2 separate regions of the Homo sapiens genome follow, and region 2 is linked to region 1. The links come from fine-mapping of genetic effects on gene expression. A gene starts in region 1. The other region holds a variant in brackets. All regions are shown on one strand. Distances are from middle to middle.

Evidence for each region. PIP is the estimated chance that this variant, and not a neighbour inherited with it, causes the effect.
Region 2: its variant is fine-mapped to the expression of GCLM in whole blood (TOPMed, PIP above 0.99).

What each region holds. Positions count from the first base shown.
Region 1 is chr1:93,905,592-93,922,230 of GRCh38, forward strand. It overlaps GCLM (glutamate-cysteine ligase modifier subunit), which reads right to left and starts at 3,839. Exons shown (of 7, transcript NM_002061.4): 1 at 3,447-3,839. The coding sequence starts at 3,572. It overlaps LOC124904221 (a long non-coding RNA gene), which reads left to right and starts at 4,001. Exons shown (of 2, transcript XR_007066230.1): 1 at 4,001-4,563; 2 at 13,738-14,007. It also overlaps the pseudogene CHCHD2P5. RefSeq lists silencers at 3,253-3,302, 3,353-3,712, 3,923-4,162 and an enhancer at 4,203-4,362.
Region 2 is chr1:94,032,358-94,042,961 of GRCh38, forward strand. ABCA4 (ATP binding cassette subfamily A member 4) reads right to left here. Exons shown (of 50, transcript NM_000350.3): 22 at 10,404-10,541; 23 at 8,852-9,045; 24 at 7,686-7,770; 25 at 4,788-4,993; 26 at 4,383-4,431. Among named protein-coding and RNA genes, the nearest start is that of ABCA4, 83 kb to the right of the region's middle. RefSeq lists an enhancer at 4,275-5,474. The variant G/A (reference allele first, on the strand shown) is at 5,250.

The sequences.
Region 1 (16,639 bases):
TTTTCTTAGATAAACAAAAAAAAATTTATACAAATATTATAGTATGTTGTAAATTAATTCAAACATACTTTATTAAAGTGTATTTCAGACTTATTTGATAGTAGTCCAAAGTAAGACATACATTCACATAGTGAGCAAAGACCTATATACATATAATGGAACAAAACAGTCATAAAGCGGTATTTATGCTCACAACATGCCAGGCACTCTAATGGCTTCCAATATATTAATTAGAAAAAATATACTGGTCCATGACTCACTGAACTGATTTATGACCACTAATGGGCCAAACCTGGCAATCTGAAATCACTGCCTTATTAGATAACCAAGGACACAGTGTTTTGCATTCTTCTGTGGGCAATCAATGAAAACACAAATGAGTAACTAGAGGCAAGCCCCTGAATTGCAAAAGCACTTTCCTAATAGAAACAGCAGACACTAAACTTCTGAACTATCTGAACTATGACTGCTTATGATAAAAACTGATACAATCACTTTACTACGTATATCTTAGTACACATGATTACAAGAGATAACTGGTTTATCAATTTAAGGGCACAGAACTACCTATGTTAAGATTTACAATCCATAATAATAATTTACATGCTAGTCACAACAATTCACTTGAATTCAAATTATAAGGTCTAGATCTTTATGTAAAGCATATTTATAATCAAATTTAAGTCAGTGGATGAAAAGGAGTTGATAATCATTCCAGATACAATTATAAGTCATAGTATTTTCTTAAAAATTAGTAAAAATGGAAGGAGCAGAACCAACTAGAGGTTAAAAATTCTATCGGAAGTGCTTTGGCTCAAATCGTGGGATAATTCTAAGAAATTTCCCTCTGGAAGGATGGCTCATTTGCACACTTGAGGCTTTCCTGATGAATTCCTCAATTCAGGAAGGTAAGTCTATTTTTATAGTATTCACCCTCTTCTTGAAACCATTTCTTTAATTAATCTTGGATTCTGCAAAATGTCAGGACAAATAATAAAACAGTCTAATGTTACAATTACGTAGGAAATTCATTGACTTTATCACAAGCCTAATTATTTTTAATCTTGTAAATTACATGTTTGCTATATTGACTAAACATTAACCTTGTACTTGGGTTAATGTTTGTCATTAACATTAATGTTTATGTTTGTTCTCCGCTCTCTTCATTCTTATAATACACACCCAATATCACTGAGTATAAGCATCACCACAACTTAGCCTACCATTAGATCTGGAGTTGTATAAGAATTTTTTAAATACCATGATTCAACCGGTCAAACACCCTTACAACAAAGAACTGGGCAAAACAGTCCTATAATGGTCCACTTACAAACTATTTGATTTCATAAAATTCCAGTGAGACAAAAAATCTGGGCAGAGGTCATAACATTTTTTAAAAAATTAGAACTAGAAGAGACCTTGTAAGAAATTTAACTGAACTCTTGACCCAACACGTACATTTTCTCAAAAATAAGTGATTTGTTCAGTTTACTTAATTTCTTCAGTGAAGCGGAACTGTTCCAAGTAGTACATCCCAATTTGGAGCTCTGGGTGTTACAAAGTTCTTTTACATAGAAACAAAATGTGCCTCCCCTTTTGCTCTTACCAAGCAGTCATAGTTTCCCTACAGTATGATGCCATTCCTTCAAGTTTTCCTGAAATGTTTTCTAGTTTCTTTAGTTTTATCCTACTGTTATGAAGCACCCTAAATAAAACACTAGAAACCAGAATTAGTCCTTTGAACAATGTTTTACAAACTGTGGTGTGTGACTCTGAGCATCAAGAAATCAACATTTTAAAAATTAAAATAAAAGAAAAAATCAGAATATACGGTATAAGGGCTAATATCTTTTTGTGAAACCTGTTTCAGATATACTGATTATACAACTATTAACTGGATTGCAAAGTAAAATGTACTTCTTACTGTGTTTGCAGTCAGAAACTCTTTTGAGTCACTACTTTAGAGTATGCTATTGTGAGATAGGTAAAATTTCACCCAATAATATCAATATACGTGCAAAATTCTGTATTGAACTACCACCAACAGTACTGGAAGAAATTAAGAGTCTATGTACCGAATACAGAAATATTTATCTGTGGGAGAAACAGCCAAAGTAGGTGGTTTAAATAAAACAAAACATACACACTGAGCTGGAACGTGAACACAGAATATGGTACAGACTCAGATTCCTACTAAAGTTACAAGCAAGAGTTCTCATCTCTTGATGGGCACTGACCCCAACAACAGGCCTGGGCACAGGTCCAGCACTTAACTCAGAGGGATGCCGTGTGCTGCTGCATGGTCTGTTACCAACATCTCATAGAAGAGAGCAGAAACCACTTAGGAACACAGCTGATTTAGGAAGGTTTTTCTAAACACACATAGTTTAGGAAGGTTTTTCTCTTAATTAAGATTTATCTTTCTGATGGAACCAGATGACAGGGAGATAGATGCCTGCATGGTGAGCGTTTTCATATATTACCTCTTAATTCTCACAACAACCTGATGAGGAAGGTGTTATTATCCAACTTTAAAGTAATTTTCCAAAGTCATATAGCTCCTAAATCTAAAGATTTTGTTATTTTTTAAATACTAAAATTGTCCCATACCACCAATATGCACAATGTGCAGTGGATGACTATCCGCTCAGAAATGGCCAACAAATAGGTAACAAGTTTGTAATTCCAGATTAATCTCTGTCACCTCCAACTAGTGACTAGTCTTTTTATTTTCCAGTTTTTACAAAACTTTAATTTTTGAATTGATAGATTATATTTGTACATATTTATGGGGCACATGTGATATTCTGTTACATGCATAGAATGTACAATGATATTGTTACATGCATAGAATGTGTACTGATAAAGCATACATAGACGCACAGATAAGTGCATAAAATGTGTAATGACTAAAGTCAGGGTATTTAGGGTATTCCAAAGCCAAAATTGAGTGCTTACTCATTTGCCTCACTGCAATAGAGAGTCTAATGTCAACATTCTAAAAGTTAGGTGTACTATGAATACTACTTCATCTGAATGCACCAAAGGATAATCTCCGAAAATATTCCTTTACCTGGACAGGGTGGGGGAAGGAAGCGAGAGATGTGGAGAGAGACGGAGCGACGTCCTGGCCCTCTGTGACCTCCGTGCCAGGAAGAGGGACCCAGGATGTTTGAGAGTTTTGCTACCAGCCTTAAGCACCGAGAGAGGTGTCACTCAGTGCGCAGCTGCACCGGCTAAGTTTTTTAGACGCGTTGCCCTCGGCAGCGGGTTTGGACCCAAGGTCGCGTCGACACTGGCCTCAGCATCTGACCGCGGGCGGAGCCCAGGTGCGCGCGAGGCCCTGCCACCCTCCCTCGCCCGCGGGCGCTTCTCCCTTGCCGGAACCGCCCGGCCCCGCCCGAGGCCTGCCCCGGGAGCCCCGCGGCGAGTGTCGCCACGCTCACCTCCTCGCTGTGCGTGGACGGGCACTTCTTCCGCAGGCGGCCCCAGTTCAGCAGGTTCCCCGTCTGCAGGTGCAGGGTGCGGGCCCGCGCCAGGAGCGCCTTGGCCGCGCGGCTGTCGGTGCCCATGGCAGCGGCCGCCCAGGGGCCGCGCAGCGAAGGGGCTGCGGGCGGGCGGGCAGGCAGGCGGCCGCCCCACAGGACGCGGTGCCCGAGGCCCGAGAGAGACCCGAGAGGGAGCGCGAGGCTGCCGGCGCCGCGCGGCTGGAGCCTGGTCTGCGCTCGGGCCCGAGGGAGGCCGGACGGCGGCTGGGCGGCGGCGGGAAAGGAAGGCACCGGTGGCTGCGGCTCCGGCTCCGGCTACTGCGGCCGCAGCGGGAGAGCTGATTCCAAACTGAGGGAGCTGTTTCCTGGAAGACAATGACTAAGCAGAAATCGTAGCCGAGAAAGTGCTTCGTAACCGTTACTCATCCCGCGGCGGGGCAGGGGCGGGGCGCGAATGGGCTGCGGGACGCCGGCCCGCAAGTGACTGGCCCTTGGCCTGCGGCGGGCGTGGCGACGGGTGGTGCGCGGCGGGCGCGCGGGTCGAGAGAGCGTGGCGGCGCGGCCCGGAGCGCAGCGCGCGGCAGGGCTCCCCCTGGCGGTCAGAGGACAGCGCGAGGCAGACACCGCCTCCGCCTGGTGAGGTAGACACCGCCTCCGCCTGGTGAGGTCTCCCGGCGTTCAGGTCGCGGCTCCGCCCACGGCCGCCCCAGGGTGGGCTTCCTACACGTCTCTTTAAAGGGCAGCCTGAGCGGCCACCGGGACTCGGAAATGCTACGTAGTTTTCGTTCTCAGAAGCAGCTGTTTATGCGCAAGCGCCCCCTTCTTCTTTTCGCTTTGCTACCTTCAAGGACCTTCTCCCAAACTGCTAATTTTTCTTCATCCGTTAAAGGTCTATTGATTCACATTATTTGCTGGCAGTGTGTGAAGTCAACGAACAAGACTGAGTCTTTGCCCTTGAGACGCGTACACTCTACCCAGAGACAAGTTCTAAGCACAGGAAACAAGTAATTTTATAAGAACATCATAGGGCAGTTATTCTCCAGATGAATTCAGATTAAAGAGGACACTTGAGCCGGTGAGATCACAGAAAGCTTTTATCACCCACCCCTTTAGAGGTGGTCGAGATTATTTACCCCTATTAAATTTCACGTGTGGTGGTGGACTCGGTATAAACATCAAATTGAACATGTATTGAGCTTTCCTCAACAATCTTTCACATTCGTTGAGGTGAATCAGATTATTAAAGGCAAAATGAGATTCTCATTATAAGCGGGGACAATATAGCTATTGAAAAGAGAGATGAACCAGTTGGTAAAATGGTAAGAATTAGGGGAGGGATGGGAAAAAAGATCTTTCTAGGAAGTTAGAAATTGAGCCTGATGTTGAGTAAATATTTGTTGGCTGAATGAATGATGGTAAGAGTTCATTGAACGAGCTTGCGCTGCTTTTTTTTTTTTTTTTTGGATATTGATTTTTTATTATAGTGAAAGAGCTACCCACAAGCACCACCACTACTTAAACACATTTTGATGCACTGTAACATACAATTAACATTTGTTGTAAATAATTCCAACATATACAAAAATAGCAAGAATACTATAATGAAACCCGATATAACTATCTTCTGAACTCAAGATTGAATAAGATTTGTCTATACTTTTTGTTTTATAATACTTTAAGTTCTAGGGTACATGTGCACAATGTGCAGGTTTGTTACATATGTATACAAGTGCCATGTTGGTTTGCTGCACCCATTAATTCGTTATTTACATTAGGTATTTCTCCTAATGCTATCCCTCCGCCAACCCCCCACCCCATGACAGGCCCCAGTGTGTGATGTTTCCCACCCTGTGTCCAAGTGTTCTCATGGTTCAATTCCCACCTATGAGTGAGAACATGCAGCGTTTGGTTTTCTGTCCTTGCGACAATTTGCTCAGAATGATGGTTTCCAGCTTCATCCATTCCCTACAAAGGACATGAACTCATCCTTTTTGATGGCTGCATAGTATTCCATGGTGTGTATGTGCCACATTTTCTTAATCCAGTCTATCATTGATGGACATTTGGGTTGGTTCCAAGTCTTTGCTATTGTGAATAGTGCCAAAATAAACATACCTGTGCATGTGTCTTTATAGTAGCATGATTTATAATCCTTTGGGTATATACCCAGTAATGAGATCGCTAGGTCAAATGGTATTTCTAGTTCTAGGCCCTTGAGGAGTCACCACACTGTCTTCCACAATGTTGAACTAGTTTACACTACCACTGACAGTGTAAAAGTGTTCCTAGTTCTCCACATCCTCTCCAGCACCTGTTGTTTCCTGACTTTTTAATGATTGCCATTCTAACTGGTGTGAGATGGTATCTCATTATGGTTTTGATTTGCATTTCTCTGATGACCAGTGATGATAAGCATTTTTTCATGTGTCTGTTGGCTGCATAAATGTCTTCTTTTGAAAAGTGTCTGTTCATATACTTTGCCCACTTTTTGATGGGGTTGTTTGATTTTTTCTTGTAAATTTAAGTTCTTTGTAGATTCTGGATATTAGCCCTTTGTCAGATGGGTAGATTGCAAAAATTTTCTCCCATTCTGTAGGTTGCCTGTTCACTCTGATGGTAGTTTCTTTTGCTGTGCAGAAGCTCTTTAGTTTAATTAGATCCCATTTGTCTATTTTGGCTTTTGTTGCCATTGCTTTTGGTGTTTTAGTCATGAAGTCCTTGCCCATGCCTATGTCCTGAGTGGTATTTCCTAGGTTTTCTTCTAGGGTTTTTATGGTTTTAGGTATAACATTTAAGTCTTTAATCCATCTTGAATTAATTTTTGTATAAGGTGTAAGGAAGGGATCCAGTTTCAGCTTTCTACATATGGCTAGCCAATTTCCCCAGCACCATTTATTAAATAGGGAATCCTTTCCCCATTTCTTGTTTTTGTCAGGTTTGTCAAAGATCAGATGGTTGTAGATGTGTGGTGTTATTTCTGAGGCCTCTATTCTGTTCCATTGGTCTGTATCTCTCTTTTGTACCATGCTGTTTTGGTTACTGTAGCCTTGTAGTATGGTTTGAAGTCAGGTAGCATGATGCCTCCAGCTTTGTTCTTTTTGCTTAGGATTGTCTTGGCAATGCAGGCTCTTTTTTGGTTCCATATGAACTTTAAAGTAGTTTTTTCCCATTCTGTGAAGAAAGTCATTGGTAGCTTGATGGGGATGGCATTGAATCTATAAATTACCTTGGGCAGTATGGCCATTTTCACACTATTGTTTCTTCCTATCCATGAGCATGGAATGTTCTTCCGTTTGTTTGTGTCCTCTTTTATTTTGTTGAGCAGTGGTTTGTAGTTCTCCTTGAAGAGGTCCGTCTCATCCCTTGTAAGATGGATTCCTAGGTATTTTATTCTTTTCAAAGCAATTGTGAATGGCAGTTCTCTCATGATTTGGCTCTCTGTTTGTCTGTTATTGGTGTAGAGGAATGCTTGTGATTTTTGCACATTGAATTTGTATCCTGAGACTTTGCTGAAGTTGCTTATCAGCTTAAGGAGATTTTGGGCTGAGATGATGGGGTTTTCTAAATATACAATCATGTCATCTGCAAACAGGGACAATTTGACTTCCTCTTTTCCTATCTGAATACCCTTTATTTCTTTCTCTTGCCTGATTGCCCTGGCCAGAACTTCCAACACTATGTGGAATAGGAGTGTTGAGAGAGGGCATCCCTGTCTTGTGCCAGTTTTCAAAGGGAATGCTTCCAGTTTTTGCCCATTCAGTATGATATTGGCTGTGGGTTTGTCATAAATAGCTCTTATTATTTTGAGATACATTCCACGAATACCGAGTTTATTGAGAGTTTTTAGCATGAAGGGCTGTTGAATTTTGTCAAAGGCCTTTTCTGCATCTATTGAGATAATCATGTGGTTTTTGTCTTTCGTTCTGTTTATGTGATGGATTACTTTTATTGATTTGCGTATGTTGAACCAGCCTTGCATCCCAGGGATGAAGCCAACTTGATCGTGGTGGATAAGCTTTTTGATGTGCTACTGGATTCAGTTTGCCAGTATTTTATTGAGGATTTTCACATTGATGTTCATCAGGGATATTGGTATAAAATTCTCTTTTTTGTGTGTGTCTTTGCCAGGCTTTGGTATTAGGATGATGCTGGCTTCATAAAATGAGTTAGGAAGGATTCCCTCTTTTTCTATTGATTGGAATAGTTTCAGAAGGAATGGTACCAGCTCCTCTTTGTACCTCTGGTAGAATTTGGCTGTGAATCTGTCTGGTCCTGGACTTTTTTTGGTTGGTAGGCTATTAATTATTGCCTCAATTTCAGAACCTGTTATTGGTCTATTCAGGTGTTTATAGTATTCTCTGATGGTAGTTTGTATTTTCTGTGGGATCAGTGGTGATATCCCCTTTATCATTTTTTATTGCATCTATTTTATTCTTCTCTCTTTTCTTCTTTATTAGTCTTGCTAGTAGTCTATTTTGTTGATCTTTTCAGAAAACCGGCTCCTGGATTCATTGACTTTTTGAAGAGTTTTTTGTGTCTCTATCTCCTTCAGTCCTGCTCTGATCTGTGTTATTTCTTGTCTTCTGCTGTCTTTTGAATTTGTTTGCTCTTGTTTTTCTAGTTCTTTTAATTGTGATGTTAGGGCATCAATTTTAGATCTTTCCTGCTTTCTCTTGTGGGCATTTAGTGCTATAAATTTCCCTCTACACGCTGCTTTAAATGTGTCCCAGAGATTCTGGTACATTGTGTCTTTGTTCTCATTGGTTTCAAAGAACAACTTTATTTCTGCCTTCATTTCCTCACTTACCCAGTAGTCATTCGGAGCAGGTTGTTCAGTTTCCATGTAGTTGTGCAGTTTTGAGTGAGTTTCTTAATCCTGAGTTCTAATTTGATTGCACTGTGGTCTGAGATAGAGTTTGTTGTGATTTCTGTTCTTTTACATTTGCTGAGGAGTGTTTTACTTCCAATTACGTCGTCAGTTTAAGAATAAGTGTGATGTGCTGAGAAGAATGTATATTCTGTTGATTTGGGGTGGAGAGTCCTGTAGATGTCTATTAGGTCCACTTGGTCCAGAGCTGAGTTCAATTCCTGGATATCCTTGTTAATTTTTTGTCTCGTTGATCCAATATTGACAGTCGGGTGTTAAAGTCTCCCATTGTTATTGTGTGGGAGTCTAAGTCTCTTTGTATTGGCGCTCCTGTATTGGGTGCATATATATTTAGAATAGTTAGCTCTTCTTGTTGAATTGATCCCTTTACCACTATGTAATGGCCTTCTTTGTCTCTTTTGATCTTTGTTGGTTTAAAGTCTGTTTTATCAGAGACTAGGATTGCAACCCCTGCTTTTTTTTGCTTTCCATTTGCTTGGTAGATCTTCCTCCATCCCTTTATTTTGAGCTTATGTGTGTCTGTGCATGAGATGGGTTTCCTGACTACAGCACACTGATGGGTCTTAACTCTTTATCCAATTTGCCAGTCTTTGTCTTTTAATTGGGGCGTTTAGCCCATTCACATTTAAGGTTAATATTGTTATGTGTGAATTTGATCCTGTCATTATGATGTTAGCTGGTTATTTTGCCCGTTAGTTGATGCAGTTTCTTCCTAGCATCGATAGTCTTTACAATTTGGCATGTTTTTGCAGTGGCTGGTACTGATGGTTCCTTTCCATGTTTAGTGCTTCCTTCAGGAGCTCTTGTAAGGTAGGCCTGGGGGTGACAGAATCTCTCAGCATTTGCTTGTCTGTAAAGTATTTTATTTCTCCTTCACTTATGAAGCTTAGTTTGGCTGGATATGAAATTCTGGGTTGAAAATTCTTTTTTTTGAGAATGTTGAATATTGGCCCCCACTCTCTTCTGGCTTGTAGAGTTTCTGCCAAGAGATCTGTTGTTAGTCTGATGGGCTTCCCTTTGTGGGTAACCCAACCTTTCTCTCTTGGCTGCGCTTAAGATTTTTTCCTTCATTTCAACCTTGGTGAATCTAACAATTATGTGTCTTGGGGTTGCTCTTCTCGAGGAGTATCTTTGTGGTGTTCTCTGTATTTCCTGAATTTGAATGTTGGCCTGCCTTGCTAGGTTGGGGAAGTTCTCCTGGATAATATCCTGCAGAGTGTTTTCCAACTTGGTTCCATTCTCCCCGTCACTTTCAGGTACACCAGTCAGACGTAGACGTAGATTTGGTCTTTTCACATAGTCCCATATTTCTTGGAGGCTTTGTTAGTTTCTTTTTACTCTTTTTTCTCTAAACTTCTCTTCTCGCTTCATTTCATTAATTTGATCTTCAATCACTAATACCCTTTCTTCCAGTTGATCAAATCAGCTACTGAAGCTTGTGCATGCATCAGGTAGTTCTTGTGCCATGGTTTTCAGCTCCATCAAGTCATTTAAGTGCTTCTGTACACTGTTTATTCTAGTTAGGCATTCATCTAATCTTTTTTTAAGGTTTTTAGCTTCCTTGCAATGGGTTTGAACATCCTCCTTTAGCTCGGAGAAGTTTGTTATTACCGACCTTCTGAAGCCTATTTCTGTCAACTCATCAAAGTTGTTCTCCATCCAGCTTTGTTCCATTGCTGGCGAGGAGCTGCAATCCTTTGGAGGAGAAGAGGCACTCTGGTTTTTAGAATTCTCAGCTTTTCTGTTCTGGTTTCTCCCCATCTTTGTAGTTTTATCTACCTTTGGTCTTTGATGCTGGCGACCTACAGATTGGGTTTTGGTATAGATGTCCTTTTTGTTGATATTGATGCTATCCCTTTCTGTTCGTTAGTTTTCCTTCTAAGAGTCAGGTCCCTCAGCTGCAGGTCTGTTGGAGTTTGCTGGAGGTCCACTGCAGACCCTGTTTGCCTGGGTATCACCAGCAGAGGCTGCAGAAAAGCAAATATTGCAGAACAGCAAATATTGCTGCCTGATCCTTCCTCTGGAAGCTTCGTCTCAGAGGGGTGCCTGGCTGTATGAGGTGTCAATCAGTCCCCACTGGGAGGTGTCTCCCAGTTAGGCTACATGGGGGTCACAGACCCACTTAAGGAGGCAGTCCGTCCATTCTCAGAGCTCAAACACCATGTTGGGAGAACCACTGTTCTCTTCAGAGCTGTCAGACAGGGACGTTTAAGTCTGCAGAAGTTTCTGCTGCCTTTTGTTCAGCTATGCCTTGCTCCCAGAGGTGGAGTCTACAGAGGCAGGCAGGCCTCCTTGAGCTGTGGTGGGCTCCACCCAGTTGGAGCTTCCAGGCCACTTTGTTTACCTACTCAAGCCTCAGCAATGGCAGACCGCCCCCCGCCCCTGCAACACCCTGCAGCCAGGCTGCCGGCTTTCACTCAGTTAGATCTGGGAGCTGCGGCACTAGCAGTGAGCAAGGCTCTGTGGGCGTGGGACCTGCTGAGCCAGGAGCGGGATATAATCTCCTGGTGTGCCATTTGCTAAGACCATTGGAAAAGTGCATCATTAAGATGGGAGTGTCCCAATTTTCCCAGTACAGTCTGTCACAGCTTCCCTTGGCTAGGAAAGGAAAATCCACTGACCCCTTGTGCTTCCTGGTTGAGGTGATACCCCGCCCTGCTTTGGCTCGCCGTCCTTGGGCTGCACCCACTGTCCAACCAGTCCCAATGAGATGAACCAGGTACCTCAGTTGGAAATGCAGAAATCACCTGTCTTCGGTGTCGATCATGCTGTGAGCTACAGACCTGAGCTGTTCCTATTCAGCCATCTTCGCTTGTGCTGCTTTAATTAATGTGTACATTTGATTCATATGCTGAATTTGCTGTGGCATCATTTCTTGATTGTTTGTATATTATCTGATAGCATGCAATCAATACTTGATTAAAGCTTAGAGTTTACATCTCCTAAACTATTAGACTTGCCTCTTTGCTGGGAACTTATATAACATATTGGCCAAGAATGTTGGTGCTGACATCAACCGGTATTGGCTTACCAACCTTACTTTTACCAGGCACTGGCTCTTTTATCTTACTTACCCAAGTCTCTCTGTATTTCAGTTTCTCTAAACCAGCAAGAGGATAGTTTGAACCATATGAAATTGCTCATAATTGACCTTTTTTTTGTTTGTTTTTTTTGAGACAGAGTCTTGCTCTGTCGCCTAGGCTGGAGTGCAGTGGCGCGATCTTGGCTCACTGCAAGCTCCACCTCCCAGGTTCATGCCATTCTCCTGCCTCAGTCTCCAGAGTAGCTGGGACTACAGGCGCCTGCCACCACGCCTGGCTAATTTTTTTTGTATTTTTAGTAGAGACGGGGTTTCACAGTGTTAGCCAGGATGGTCTCGATCTCCTGACCTCATGATCCGCCCACCTCGGCCTCCCAAAGTGCTGGGATTACAGGCCTGAGCCACCACGTCCGGTGATAATTGACCATTTTTAACCGACAGAAATGGAAAGTCCCATGGTTCCACCAAATAGAATACTTACCACATTGGGCAGGTGTGAGGAGTTAATGATGAAGAGGCATGAAAAGCCCTTAGTAAATGTCCAGTAAGTGAGAGCTCCTATTATTAATGCCCCTACTGTTTCCCCATTACAATGCAGTTCTCACAATATTGGTAAATTTATAACATGAATTCACGGCAGGCATCGTGTTATGTTTTTAAGATTTGCATATGTAAACTCATTTGCTCTTCGCAGCAACTCAGTTAAGTAACTTGTTGAAAATCTCAGTTAGTAATTAGTATTGTGGCCACGATCAAAACCTAGATCCTTCAACTTCAAATTCTTTACTCTTCCATACTATAGATAATTTAAATTCTTGAATGTGCTTATACATGATTTATATGTTTTTAATGCCTGTACGGCTTAAATTTACTACATATTGTACTTAATGATACCCTTGCCATAACACCGCAGTTCTTAGGGAGGGAAATTTAATCTTCTAAACTTATTTTGGGGGAAAAACCAGGGAATGTAAATCAGAAATTGATTATGTAGTCACTTTTAGTAAGTTATTTTTCTCCTGTCTAGAAAAGAGAAATAATATTGATAACATTTCTATCTTTGGGAATATATTTTTGTTTTTAGGTGCTTTAAAGCACTTCTACAAGTGCTGTATAAATACAGTGTCACTAACACTGACTGCTTTTTTTTTTCATGCTTGACATTTATAGGATCTGATATTCAACTGTTTATGTTTTTCTTTAAAAAACCACTCTTCCAGGCCAGGCACCATGGCTCACACCTGTAACCTCAGCATTTTGGGGAGGCTGAGGTGTGAGGATCGCTCGAGTCCAGGAGTTCAAAACCAGCCTGGGCGATAAGAGAGACCCCATCTCTACAAAAAATTTAAACATTAGCCAAATGTTGTGGCACGTGTCTGTCATCCCAGTTATTTGGGAGGCTGAGGTGGGAGGATCACTTGAGCCTGTGAGGCAGAGGTTGTAGTGAGCTGTGATTGTGTCACTGCACTCCATCCTGGGGGACAGAGAAAGACCCTGTCTCAAAAAAATAAAAACAAGACAAACCAGTCTCCTTGTGTGTCCTGTAATACCCTGCATCAGTTTCCCCAATGTATTTGATCACAGAACGCTTTTGAAATTATAATGTACTGTTGGAAGCCCAACAGGAGCTCACAAGCTTTAAGTGTTTAGAACAAAGCAGGCAGCAAAAAAAAGTCTCACAGATTAATTAATTGCTGTAGAAGTGATCACATTTTTATTCATAGTCTTTTTGCTTTATCAAGACAAACAAAATGAATTAAAATTAGTTTTACTTTATTAAGAGACCACCTGGTGCATTTTATTCTTAATAAGGTAAAATGGATTTAAATTCTCAAATTTTAACTCCTGGAATGAGTGTAACTGCTACATTTATGTTGCCATATTCAGAAGCCACTAAATGGATCCTGCCCCATCTAGAGGTGAAGGTTCTTTTTTTTTTTTTTTTTTTTTTCTGAGACAGAGTCTCACTGTGTCGCCCAGGCTGGAATACAGTGGTGCAATCTCGGCTCACTGCAACCTCCGCATCCTGGGTTCAAGCAATTCTCCTGCCTCAGCCTCCCGAGTAGCTGGGACTACAGGCATGCACCACCACGCCTGACTAATTTTTTTGTATTTTTAATAGAGACGGGGTTTCACCATGTTGGCCAGGTTGGTTTTGAACAGCTGACCTCAAGTGATCCGCCCGCTTCAGCCTCCCAAAGTGCTAGGATTATAGGCATGAGCCACCACACCCAGCTGAAGGTTCTATTTTTAAAAGGATTTTTCTGAAACCTAAATCCCTTGAAAATAATACAGCTGTCATGACCTGTTACCATCTTAAGGATTTGGAGGAAGAGAGCCATGGTTTGGAATAGAACATGAACGAGTGCAGAGGAGTGGAAATTACCACAGTTTGTTCTGAAGACTGGATACAGCGGCACCTTCCTGGAGCAGTGGTACCCCTTAAAGGTGAAGGGAACGTGGGTGTTGCAACAGAGGACCATTATCAAGAAGACTCTTTTGGGTTTGGTCTGAGAGGCACTGGGAAACCTCTTAAACTTGAGTAAGGTAGAGTCTTGACTCAAAGTAATAAATTGGCAAAAAACTCCACACCCCTATATTTTAAAATGCTATTCATTTACTCAGTAGATATTTCTCCAGTGTCTAATACTTAAGGTACTGAGCTAGGCACTGCAAATTCATAGTGAGCAAACACATTGTTCCTGTTCTTATGTAATTTACAGTCTAGTGGTAGAGAAAGATTTTAATCATATAATTATAGTAAATGTAAAATTATACTCTGGTGGTTATTATGAAAAAGGAGTACAAATATAACAAATCAGCAAGTGGTATGTAAAATTGCAGTGGAGAATGACTCAATGCTAGGAGACCAGTGAGAAAACTCTAGTAATCACCTAGACATAGGTTAGTGAGAACATGACCCACACTGAATGCAGGCTGTGAATATGAATCAAGACAGAGCTCAGGTGCCTTTGTTTTGCCCTAGTTAGTGGGAAGGAGGGAATCAGGTTACCATGGATTTACTTAGACGAAGCAAAATAGTTTCTTTTCTCAATAGGGAGCCATGGGAGAATGTCCCAGTGGGAATATCAGGGTTGGGGTTGAGCAAGAAAATTTGTTAAAATTCTCATATGTTCAAGTACAATAGAAATCATTCCATTGATAATATGAATCCAAAATATCCAATACTGTTATGTAAGATTGCCTGGAGGGCTGCTGTATTTGCATCTGTTTGTCTGTGTCATCATCATCATCTGCTAACTAAAAATGATACAATTCCTACTCCTCATCTGCTGATGGAAGAGGTTGTTGGCAGTAACTAAAATTTGTATAGTGATGAAAAATACAAGTAGATATTTAAAGAGTCAATATTTGGGTCTAAATGTATACATCACATTGAAAATTCTTTCTTTTTTTTTTGAGACAGAGTCTCACTCTGTTGCTCGGTCTAGAGTACAGTGGTGCGATCTCGGCTCACTGCAACCTCCACCTCCCAAGTTTGAGCGATTCTCTTGCCTCAGCCTCCCAAGTAGCTAGGACTACAGGCATGCACCACCATGCCTGGCTAATTTTTGTATCTTTAGTAGAGATGGGGTTTCACCATGTTGGCCAGGCTGGTTTTGAACTCCTGACTTCAGGTGATCCGCCCACCTTGGCCTCCCAAAGTGCTGGGATTACAGGCGTGAGCCACCGTGCCCTGCCCACATTGAAAATTCTATGATTGACCATGTGATGAAGAGTGCTACTAGTACAGATATCATTGAGAAGTAATGTAACTTGGGGATGAGTGTCTTTTTTTTTTTTTTTTTTTTTTTTTTTTAAGAAAATCACGACCAGGTGCAGTGACTCATACATGTAAGTGAGCACTTTGGAAGGCCGAGGCAGGAGGATCACTTGAGCCCAGGAGTTGGAGACCAGCCTGGGCAACATAGTGAGGCCTCCTCTCTACAATTTTTTTTTTTTTTTTAAAGAAAATCACGTTATTCCAACTAACTCCGCAAACAGTAACACCACAATGGCAGGTTTAAGGAGGCCACACAAACATTTGCCCAGCCCGAAATTCTATACCATCTCAGTGAACTTGTATACAGTAAGAATGCTCTTTTCCATTGCAATTCTGAAGCAAGGAAGCTATTAATGAAAGAGAAGTTTAACTGATGGTTTTGCACTTTATACTTTTATTATCAACTATATTTTTATGCTAAATTATCTTGGTGAGGTGAGCTGATTTTTCATTTCTTCAATCTGAACTTTTTGACTAGGCTAATTCACCTGCAAGTCTGCACTGTTTCAACACCTTAGTGAAACCCTCACAGAGCTTTATGTCACCCTGGTTCTGCGCACACTCTAAAAACTGTTTATCTCATAGAAGCAAGGGCGAAACTGCTGCTGCTGTTGCTGCTGCTGTGCCAGCTGGGTTTCTGAGGGCCCTACTTAGAGATGTTAGGCTTTGAGGGCTCAGCATTACTTACTCTTCTGAAGCTCCCAGTGATGGCCTGACCCAGTATGTGCCTGACAGCCTGACAGCCATGCCAGCTGCAGCAGTTGTCATTTGGGTCATCAGACCTGGCTGTGGGGTACAGCAGCAGGTGAGCCAACTGCAGATGATGGGGCTGCTGCTAGTGCTGGCCTGGGTGCACTTCTCATCTGAGGTACCTGCTGGAGACGCCCAACTGGCCCAGGCAACCATGAGGAAGGTGCTTTGACTTCTGCAAGCATCGTAAGTGTGTGTGGTAACTTTACCTCTAGAAGTGTGGACCTCTGTCTGAGTGTCAGTTTTAAGATTTGAATAATCATCCAGGGTGAGTTTGAAATAGTTATTTCTTGGCCTGAATAGATGAATATTAGGATTGGAATTAGACTCATAGCAAAAGCATATGAAATAGTTTTTATGTAGTGAGGATAAGAGGTATCTTAGGAAATGTTAGTAATTAAGATGGTAAGTGAAGTTATGATAGAAGAAGAGAACAAATTTATTGCTTTTATTTGGAGTTACACTCATTTTTTTAGCTCCTAACTCCAGCGGATTATTTCTATGCTTTAAAAGTTGAAAAACAATATTATTCTACATGGAGGCATGAGTTAGTAGTTTTTGCTTACTTTCTCAGTAAATAAGGAGTTTTAGGCTTCTGTTGTTTTAGTCACAATATAATGTTTTGTTTAACAATATTTATAATATATGGGTACTAGAATAGTTTGGGGGTTGTGATAGGAGAAGAAATA
Region 2 (10,604 bases), 120 kb after region 1:
TGGGCACGGAGGCTCACGCCTGTCATCTCAGCACTTTGGGAGGCTGAGGTGGATGGATCATTTGAGGTCAGCAGTTTGAGACCAGCTTGACCTACATAGTGAAACCCCCTCTCTACAAAAATACAAAAATTAGCCAGGCATGGTGGCAGGCACCTGTAATCCCAACTACTCGGGAGGCTGAGGCAGGAGAATCACTTGAACCCAGGAGGTGGAGGTTGCGTAAGCCGAGATTGCAAGACTGCACTCCAGCCTGGGTGACAGAGCAAGACTCCTTCTCAAACAGCACAAAGAAAACCAAACAAACAAACAAAAAAACTAAGGTGCTGGTCAATATGTGTAATACACTCACATTTATGTTTAAAATTCATGTTCATGTATCCTACACAAAGAAAAACTGACATCTTATGTACACACACACACATAATTGTAAAACTCTGAAAGAATGTCCACCGACTGTCAGCAGAAGCTCTCCCTGGGGAGGCAGAGTTGGGTAGAAAGGGGAGAGGAAGTGGGAAGCGAGACTTTAGCCTTTTGTGTATTATATGAATTTTTAAACAACAAAATACATTCACCTATTACCTGTGTACTTAAACAAATGAAAAATCAGAGTCGATGTGGTTCTTTCTGAATTCTTAGAGGATACTGAGAAGTGGTAGAAAAAGTAATGAACTAAGAGTTAGGGGACTGAGGTTTGAATATGGATTCTTACAAGATACATAAATTTGGGGAAGTGACTCAATCTGCCTAAATCTGAGTTTTCTCAGACTTCTTATCTGTAAAATGAAGGCATGGTGGCTCATGCCTGTAATCCCAGCACTTTGGGAGGCCAAGCCAGGAGGATTGATTGACCCCAGGAGTTTCAGATCAGCCTGTACAACATAGGGAGACCCTGTCTCTACAAACAACTAGAAAAGAAATTAGCCAGGCACGGTGGCGTGTGCCTGTAGTCCCAGCTACTTGGGAGGCTGAGGTGGGAGGACCCCTTGGGCCCAGGAGGTCAAGGCTGCAGTGAGCTATGATCGAGCCGCTGTATTCCAGCCTGGGTGACAGAGCAAAACTCTATCTCAAAAAAAAAAAAAAGAAAAAAAAAAAGAACATTTCACAGGATTGGTTTGGAAATTTAAATGAGATAACACATGGGAGCATGCTCTAGAAACCATTGCAAGTTGTCGGTTATGTTGAAGCTACAGTTTATAGTCACTGATTAATGCTCATTTGCTGAACAACTATTGCTGGACATGGAGAGCCTAGAGGACTGTTGGTTGGTCCCCAGCTGCTTTCTTAACCCTCCTCAAGTCCCCCAGGACAAGGACAGTTGTAAAGGGAATTGGATCAGCTCAGTCATCCTTTCAACTACATTTACCTATGACGTGCCAGGCCTGGGATGCGAAGGCTGGGTGGCAGCCCCAGCCCTGGCACCTGCACTCAGAGGGGCGAAGTTCTGCAGGTTCTCGGTGCCAGAGCCCCAGTTCTGCAGGCTCCTTCTCCTGATCCGGGCTCAGATTTGATGTCTTCTATGGCTGGCCCTCCCTCTGGGAGGATCCCTACTGCCCCTCCTCTTTGCTGGCTGATATCATCTCAAACCTCTGAGCTTTGATCTCTCCCTGAAGGCTCCATCCTGACTGGAGCCCACTGACCTGGCCAGAGCTAAGGGTTCCAGGCCTATTCAGAATCGCCAGTTTGTCCCTAGCTATCTGCTGCTTTCTAGTTACTGACTATGAGTCACCCCTTCAGAAGTGGCATTGACCCTTGTTGGAGGCTGCACAAATGTTTCTTATGATTAGGCATAATTGAAATCTGTCAGTAACAACATGAACCCGTGATCATTTAAGCAGCTGACCCAATCATTACCTCCTGCTCCTTCCTCCTGTTACCCAATAAATAATGAAGGGCTGCAGAAGCTTAGGGAGCTGCCTTTACTCATTAGAAGCAGGGAGCCCTTTTCTTCTTCTCTTCTTCTCTCTTCTTCTTCCCGATGCTAGCCTTTCCTTAAAACAGTTACTTTGGTTTTTTTGTTATCATTTCCATGTTGATCCCTTCGTTCAGTCTTGTAATGATGTTCTCAGGCAGTAACAGTAGTAACTGCTGTAATGATGGTTTCACGTAGTAACCGTGGCAGTCAGCCACAGACCCTCTCCATGCCACGCATTGTGTGACCCCAATGCACAGCTACAGGTTCATTTAAACACTGGAGACAAGATCAGAAAATGTCATCCTCTGAGACTGAGCTAACTCAAAACAAATGTACTTAGCCATCTGAAAAGTGGCTGAGAGTGTGGCATTGAGCATCCTAGATTACAGAGCTAAGACCAGAGAGTGAGACCCAGTGGCCTGGGTGACTTTAGGCAAACCCTCCAACCTCTGTGAGCTCAGTTCCCCCCAGATGGGGCAGACCCCTGCCCTGCCTGCTTCATAAGATTACAGTGATAATCAAATAAGACAATGGATGTTAAGTGCTTTGAGGTAAGAGATGGTTTGTAAACATTTAGTTTAGAGTTGCTAAGTCTTAATCAGTGATCGTATACTGTGTTATAAGTCGGCAAGCATTAACTCACTTAATTCTCTCAACAATGCTACAGGTAGATGCTATTATTATCTCCATTTTGCAGATGGGGAAACAGGTACAAAGAGGCTATGTACTTACCCAAAGCCAGTTAGTTTGCAAATTATGAAGCTCAGGTTTGATATTTGGTCGGCCTCACTCCAGAGGCTACACTCTTACCCACTCCCCTTGACTGTATCTTTGGAACATCCTGTTCTATGCCTATGCTGACTAAACAGTCCTCTGATGTGTAATTTATTCTCCTGAGAGGGCCTATTTATCAAGAAGGAATATTCTGCACAGGTAAAAGGCCCTAACTCTTGAATCCAGCAAAGCTTCTGATATAAATTAGCATATTTTCATTCTGGTCTTGGTTAATATGAGTCTTTGACATTGGGTGAGCTGAGATTATTCAATTTCTGTGTCAGCAGAGCTTGAAAGAAACTTGGGTTCTGTGGTGAATTGCTGCTGTCCCCTGGAGAGGACTGCTTCCTGCCCCACACCCACTGTGCCAGGACGACTACATCTTTTGGTCACCATGCGATGTACTGGGATGGGCTGAAGCATATCTGGGCTGGTATATGTGTCCATTGGTAGTTCTAGGCATAGTAGATAGATGTTTGGGATCATTATGAAGAAAGATGAAAACCAAGTTATCTTAAGAGCTGATTCCAGAATCCACATAGAAAGGAAACACTCCAACAGGAAAACACTGAAATATGCCACACTGGAAAGAAGGAGGTAACTGGTGGTTTAGGAGGTGTTAGGAGCCCAGGGGCAGCAAAGGAGAATCGCTGCAAAGCTTTGCCTGTACCAGGAGAGGATTTTACAGTGTGGGTGGACACCTCGTGTTCTATCAGAAGTGGTTTCTGTTTGTGTGGCAGGTAACCCTTCCACACATCTATCTCCCCACCCTCCACCCTCTGCTGTAAACTCTGCTACACTCACACATGCTTTGTGTGGCTGTGGGTTTGATAAAAGTTCATGGAAGGAGCTAGTTGGTGCCCAGGCTGACACATGTAGAAGAGAGACTTCTAGAATCCACAGGAATTTTGGTCCCCATGTTTTCAAAGCCCATAGACCACTAAATAAGGGTTCAAAATGATTTTATGTTGATCTCAAAGGGGCCAGGAGACTGACGTCTGAGTTGTATTTGATAAACATTAAGGACTCTGCCAGCTGTCACTCATGCAGACAGAGATGGATCAGAGGCCTGGTGGAGATGACAGGAGGAGATGAGGATGATGACATGGCAGGCCGAGAGACTGGGGATACAGCATGAGGAGCTGAGGGATGAAGCTACCAACCTGACCTCCGTAAGAATCCTCATTCATCCAAAGTGTCCCCATCTAGACCTAACTCAGTCTGTTATTCCTTTGTCACTCAAAGCCATCTAGGATGCAAAATGCCTACTACTGGGGAGTCAGATACTATGGAGGAGTATTTGCCTGCTTTGTTGTTTCATGACTTTTTCCTTAGACTTTTTTTTTTTTTTGAGATGGATTTTGCTCTTGTCGCTCAGGCTGCAGTGCAGTGGCACAATCTCTGCTCACTGCAACCTCTGCCTCCCAGGTTCAAGTGATTCTCCTGCCTCAGCCTCCCGAGTAGCTGGAATTACAGGTGCGCGCCACCACACCTAGCTAATTTTTGTATTTTTAGTACAGATGGGGTTTCACCATGTTGGCCAGGCTGGTCTCGAACTCAGGTGGTCCATCTGCCTTGGCCTCCCAAATTGCTGGGATTACAGGCATGAGCCACTGTGCCCAGCCCCTTAGACTTTCGAGATGGAACTTGGGAGGGAGGCAAGGAAGGGAACAAGCCACTGGCTCCAGCACCATACCCGCAAACAGAGGTCCTGAATCAGAATCCTCCGTGACCTTCAGAAAAATCTGTCAAGAAGAAAAAAAGAGAGAATTTTGTTTAGTCATTCTTATTCTCAGAAAAATCTAACCCAAGCTCTGTTTTGTTGGGTATTGCTTCATAATGGGAAGAAAATCCATTACGACTCTATCTGAGAACATCATCTTCTATAAATACAAAAACGTAAGCACACAGTAACCACAAGTACATAAAATTTGTATGCATGCAGAGATGGGGGAACTATGCCAAAAATAAAGATAGTTGCTATGCTTGGGTGGGGAACGATGGCTTTTTGCTTTTACAAAACTTTGCTCTAATGTTAGACTTTTTCAAAGAACCGCCACTTCTGGCACTTGACAGAAACCAGCTGGAATCTCTACTTTACCTCTTCCAGGGGAGTGTCAGAAATTCCAAAACTGCTGAGACCAAGGTCAGCCAGCGTCTCCTCCAGCTCTCTGAAAAGGCTGGCATATGCTCTGTGCTTGAAGTTCTTATTTGGAAGAAGGAAGATAAGTTCTTGACCAATGCACTCCACCAGCTTTGCCTCTGGAACATGGTGGAGAACTACATCCATCAGCTCATTTACATCCCCTAGGACAAGAAAAAAGACTGATGCCAGCTCTGTTTTCCAGAAACTGGAAGACTGTGAGGTTACCCAGATTTCCTACTTCTCTCCACTTCCCCTTTGAAGAAGAGGTATTTTGTATCTCGGCAGTGACTCTTTCAGAGGACTGATGCTCCATCAAGTCTGCTTTTAGCTTAGTTGGCCCTGAGATCATCATTGAGAGGCAGAGGGAAACGGAAGCAAAGTCCTCCCGACTAGCTAGCTGTGCAACCTGGGGGCGGA[G/A]GTTGGTGGGGGGGTCATGCAACTTTCCTGTGCCAGTTCCTCCTCTGTTCAACGAAATGCTCTGTCCCCTCAAACTATGTTATGTTGGGTGGGTCACATTAGACTTTCCTCATCTGTGAAAAGGGGAAAATACTGGTATCCACTTCATTGTTGTTTTTGAGGACTGGATGAGTCAAACTACACAAAGCAGTTAGAGAAATACCTGGCACATAGGTGAGTGCTGGCTGCTATTATTATCCTTTACATCATCTCGGTAAGAAATCTCTTACTCATGGTTGTTTTTCATTCTCATTCACTGAAAACTTGAGGGCTAAGTCAAAGTTGTTTTCATTTTTCTGGTCTGTCACCAGCTATGGGGGACTTGCCCAAGACACAAACCTGGAACCGGTGACCAAGCTGAGTGAGAAGTACCTTCCCTAAATCACACACACATGCCTACTCTAACTTCTCAGAAGATTGCACAGTTTCTCTTGGGATTGCACCTGCCTCCACAAACAAAACTGAATCCTCAGGTCACAGGAAATGCAGAGGGGGGGTTGAGAAGCCATGGAGAGAGGCTGGGGGAGAGGGTAGGATATGCGGTGCGTATCATAGACTGTGAACAAGTGTCAGGTATCAACTGTTTATCTGACACATGTATACAGTCAGAATTGAATTTTATGTACAAATGTGTATTACTTTAAAATTAAAAATCTAACTGTGAAAACCTCACTTGCATGCACTTGAAGAGAGAGTTCTCTCGCACATTGTCTTGAGAGGCAGGTCAAAGGGAGAGGGATTCCAGGACTCAAAACATGACTCTTCAGAAAGCAGCTCTCAGAGTTGTGGACACCCAGTAGGTTCTTTTCTTTTTTTGTTGTTTAAAAAATGATCCATATGAAGGGATTTCATGGTTTTCAACCAAAATCCTTCTGCCTAGCCGGATTGGAAGTCTTGCTTTATGTCAAATCTGCAAGTTGGACTTGATTGTCTTTAGCTCTGAGATGACTTCATACGGAGGCTGGAGAGTCCTTTACGTTAAGGAAGCAGCTCTGCCCTAATAGCTCTCCAGGGGTCATATTCATTGTTCTTTTAGGAAGGAAATTGAACCCAAAGCTGCTGGATTCCCAGGAATTGTGTCTTAGGCATGTGTCAGCCTTTCCAGAAGTAGCTCTGTAGGTCAGCAGGGCTTTGGGCATCTGGGAGGGAGGTCTGTGAGTGTGTGTGTGGTATGTGGGTGTGTTTAAGTGAAAAGACTTTCAAGGAGCTAACTGGGGATTCAAATGATTTTCCCTTTCTTATTTGGGGCATAACTATTTAGTGCATTTCCCACCATTCACAGCATCCCGATTCTATACAAAGAAAACCTTTATTTAGAAATAAAGTAATTTAAAAAAAAGAATCATTCAGCCATGCAGGCCCTGTTTCCAATCTGATTTTGGCAAATCACAGTAACTTAACATATTAGTATCAATTTAAAACAAATATAAACTTCTTGACCAAGGTTCAGAGAGCAGGGAGATAGGTACCCACAGCAAGGCAGGCTAGGAGAAAGACCCAGAGATGTCATCCTAAAAAGATGTTTTCTGTTCATCACAGGGTCTCTCAGTGTAAAGAGAGGGCAGGTGCATGAACAGTGATGATGCCTCTCTGAGCATGTTCCCTCCAGTTGTAATGATCAGACAACGCAAATATTGCCCGGTTCTCTTGCTTCACCAGATTTCAGTTAGTAAATTCTTAACATTTGAAAAAGTTTGTGCTAAATAGAAAAATATGCCTTTTCTTTGATAAGCAGATACTTTCCCCATTCATTAACCTGCATCAGTACGTAAGTTTAGTTTTGCTCCTGTGTGGGAATACGCTTCTCACACATTCTCTCACATAGAGAGGGGATAGCCTCTCCACTGCAGCTCCTTGGAGATGGGGGCACCCCTGAGAGCTTCAGTGCATCCTAATTAAAGGGAGAATCACTGGGAAATTGGGAAGCTGAGGGGAGAATCAGGAGTATAACAGGGGTGTATGCTATTTCCAGACTTGCCATCCACATGTGCAATCTCTGACTCCACGAATTCACTGGAAGAGCCGTGCATCACCATGCTTCCACTAGAGGGCGCCACGGCACACATGTAGAAGAAGCTCTCCCCAGACACTAAGGAATGTGGCCTGGAGCCAGGGCAGGGGGACCCCAGGAATGATGGCTTACTAAGGGTAAGAGCACAGAGTGTATTCCTCATTAAAGGGAGAGGGCCTTTAGGTGCATGACTTTTAAAATCCCTTTGGGAATGAAGGAAGAAGGAAGAGGAGAAAGAAGCTCAAAGCAAAAGAACAACTGTGTGACCTGCAGAAGTACCCAGTGTTCTCTTTGCTCCCATTAAAATGCATCACAACAGGACACACCCAGCAATACTGGGAGATGGCTGCCAGACGGAACCCAAGTATGGCCCGTCCAGTCCTTACCATCCAGGACTTGTTCTGGAGTTAGGTCATCGACGTGGGCTGGACACGTGGTGGAGAAACCCTTAGACGAGCAGCTGCAGGTCCCCTGCAACAGATGGATGGGATGACTGACAAGATGCACATCCCTTCCATGACAGCCTCTCCCTGATGCCAGCTGCTGTCACCGCCCGCTTTATTTATTTCTCACTGCCAAGTGTAGTCAACACATTTTTTTCTTCACTGTTTAATCTGTTAATTCATCTGAGCATTTTGAGGGTGTAGTCGCTTGATTTTATCCTAGAGAGTGTGTGAGTCACACACAGAGAGGAGCAGAACCTCCAAGGGTCCCTTTGGCTTGTCATCAATTATGTGGCAGCTGTAGGTTCTGCCTGTGGGAGACATTCTGTGCCTCCCTCCCCGTGGATGGACATAGGAAACCCCAGCGGCAGCCAGACACTTAAACCAGAGGCATAAATAATGCTGCCATATCATAATCATGACCATTTGAATGTGAGCAATGCCTGTTCTTAAGAAGCCCAGAGCACATTTATAATACTTTATCTCACTTATCTTCACATCCCTAAGAAATAGAAGCAGAGGTCATTAGCTTCATGTTCCATGTGAAGAAGAAAAAAATACTAAAAAAAAGGAGGAATTAAATAATTTGCCTAGGATGACACAGTTTGTTCACTTCGCAGCACAGACATAAAACTGGGTCTCCTGATGTGCTGAAGTGGTCTCTGCTGGTTGGTACTTTTTGCCTTCATCATTTTTATGTTATAGCACCCAAGGAGGCCTCTTCTTAGTTTTCACTTACCACTGAAATTCAGGTTTAATTAGGGAATATTAATGTTGAAATGAAGCTCAACCAATTGCTCTTAAAACAGCCTAACCTTACAGAATAAGACACTCACTTCTATGTTGCACCAAACCGCACCAAACTGGTGTGTAATCTGGCATGTAATACTTGCAGACCATTTAAAGCTAGTTGTTTCATTTTGGCTAAAGCATCTCTGTAGGAGGAGGCTTCAGAATGTGTTCATCGAAATCTTCTGCAAATGGTCCCAGAACAAAGACACTGATTCTGGTGGCGAGAGCCTGTGTGAGTAGCCATGTCTGGAGTGGCAGCCCCGTGCTGTGTGCTCCTTCTCACCCAGGCCAGGGTCCTTCCCTGGGCAGACACCTACCTCACTGCCTTTCCTTTGGCTCTGGATGTTTTTCATCTTGCGCACCAAGGTTAAGTACAAGCCTGTGCCAAAGCAGTTCTTCAGGAAGAGTGGGGTGCCTGAGCAGTAGAGCCTTCCCTGGGCAATGATGGCAATGCGGTCCCCAAGGAGGTCGGCCTCGTCCATGTGGTGAGTGGACATGATGATGGTTCTGCCTGCAAGGTAGGGGCCAGGGCAATCACCAGGCCTGCCCTGGGTTGGGCATTGTTGGTAAAGGGTGTACAGCAATTTCCTGGCTATATAGTTGCAAAAATCAGGAGTTAACTAAAAAAAAAAACCCAAGGGAACTAATTCAGCAGCAAATTCCAGCATATTAGGACAATAATAACTAACATTTCATAGCTTCCTACATACTGTAAAGCATTGCCACACACAGTGTCTCTGTATCCAGCATAGGATCTGATTCAAATAAATCTCTATATTAGGGGCTCATGTATTATGGTCAGCATCTAGGGAGTTTCATATGTACATTTTCTGGATCATTAAGCTCTGGATTTATACTCTTCATAAAGAACACACACGTGCATACTCTCACTAACTGGAGATGTCATTAACAGAAAACAGCAGGCCGGGCACGGTGGCTCATGCCTGTAATCCCAGCACTTTGGGAGGACAAGGCGGGAGGATCACCTGAGGTCGGGAGATCGAGACCATCCTGGCTAACACGGTGAAACCCCGTCTCTACTAAAAATACAAAAACAATTAGCTAGGCGTGGTGGCGGGCACCTGTAGTCCCAGCTACTCAGGAGGCTGAGGCAGGAGAATGGCTCGAACCCAGGAGGCGGAGCTTGCAGTGAGTGGAGATTGCGCCACTGCACTCCAGCCTGCGCGACAGAGCGAGATTCTGTCTCAAAAAAAAAAAAAAAAAAAAAAGAAAAGAAAGAAAGAAAATAGCAATGAGGATTTCAGGATGACAAACCCTCAGAGAAAGGCACGGGGCAACGCTGTGTGAGTAGAGCAAGGGGGAAAGCTCTGGCTTGACCACGGGGTTGAACCGTGCTGTTACCTCTATGGGCACTCAGCTCTGCTTGCTGTCTCTTCTGATCTGAGCCCCTTGTCTGAGAGGTGCCATGACAGAGGAGCCACTTCCATCTGTGGCCACCCTCTGGAGCACTGAATGCCCAGCAGGTCACCCTCACACTGGTCCTGAGTGGTCATCTGACAGCTATGGAGCTTCTAGGTATGTTTGCAGGTGACCTGGGTCCCCATGGTCAGAGAAGACATTCACCTAGAGTAGCATCCATTATTCCAGACAGAAGGGCTGCAGGTCAAGAGAATTTTCTAAAATATTTTGGGAAGTAGGTTGCATCATCAGTGATTCTCTGTTTATATTTGTAAAAACCTCAGGAGGCTTTAGCTGGAACTTAGATTCACCAAGTCACTGATAAACCCCCTTCTGAGTGTAGTCATTGTGGTTCCTGTACTCAGCTACAAAATGGCAGGTGAGAGAGTGGGGACCACAGCTAGGGCTGCAGTGAGAGCCCAGCCCAGGAGACTGAGCAGCAGCTGTTACCTGAGCGATACTTCAGGAGCAGATCCCAGATTGAGCGTCTCGAGTAAGGGTCCACCCCAGAGGTGGGTTCGTCCAGAATCACCACCTTGGCATCTCCCACAAAGGCAATGGCAACCGACAGCTTTCTCTGCATGCCACCTGGAGGCACAAGAAGGACGGGAGAGTTAAGGGGCTGTGGAGGGTGAGGAAGAGAAAGGCCCA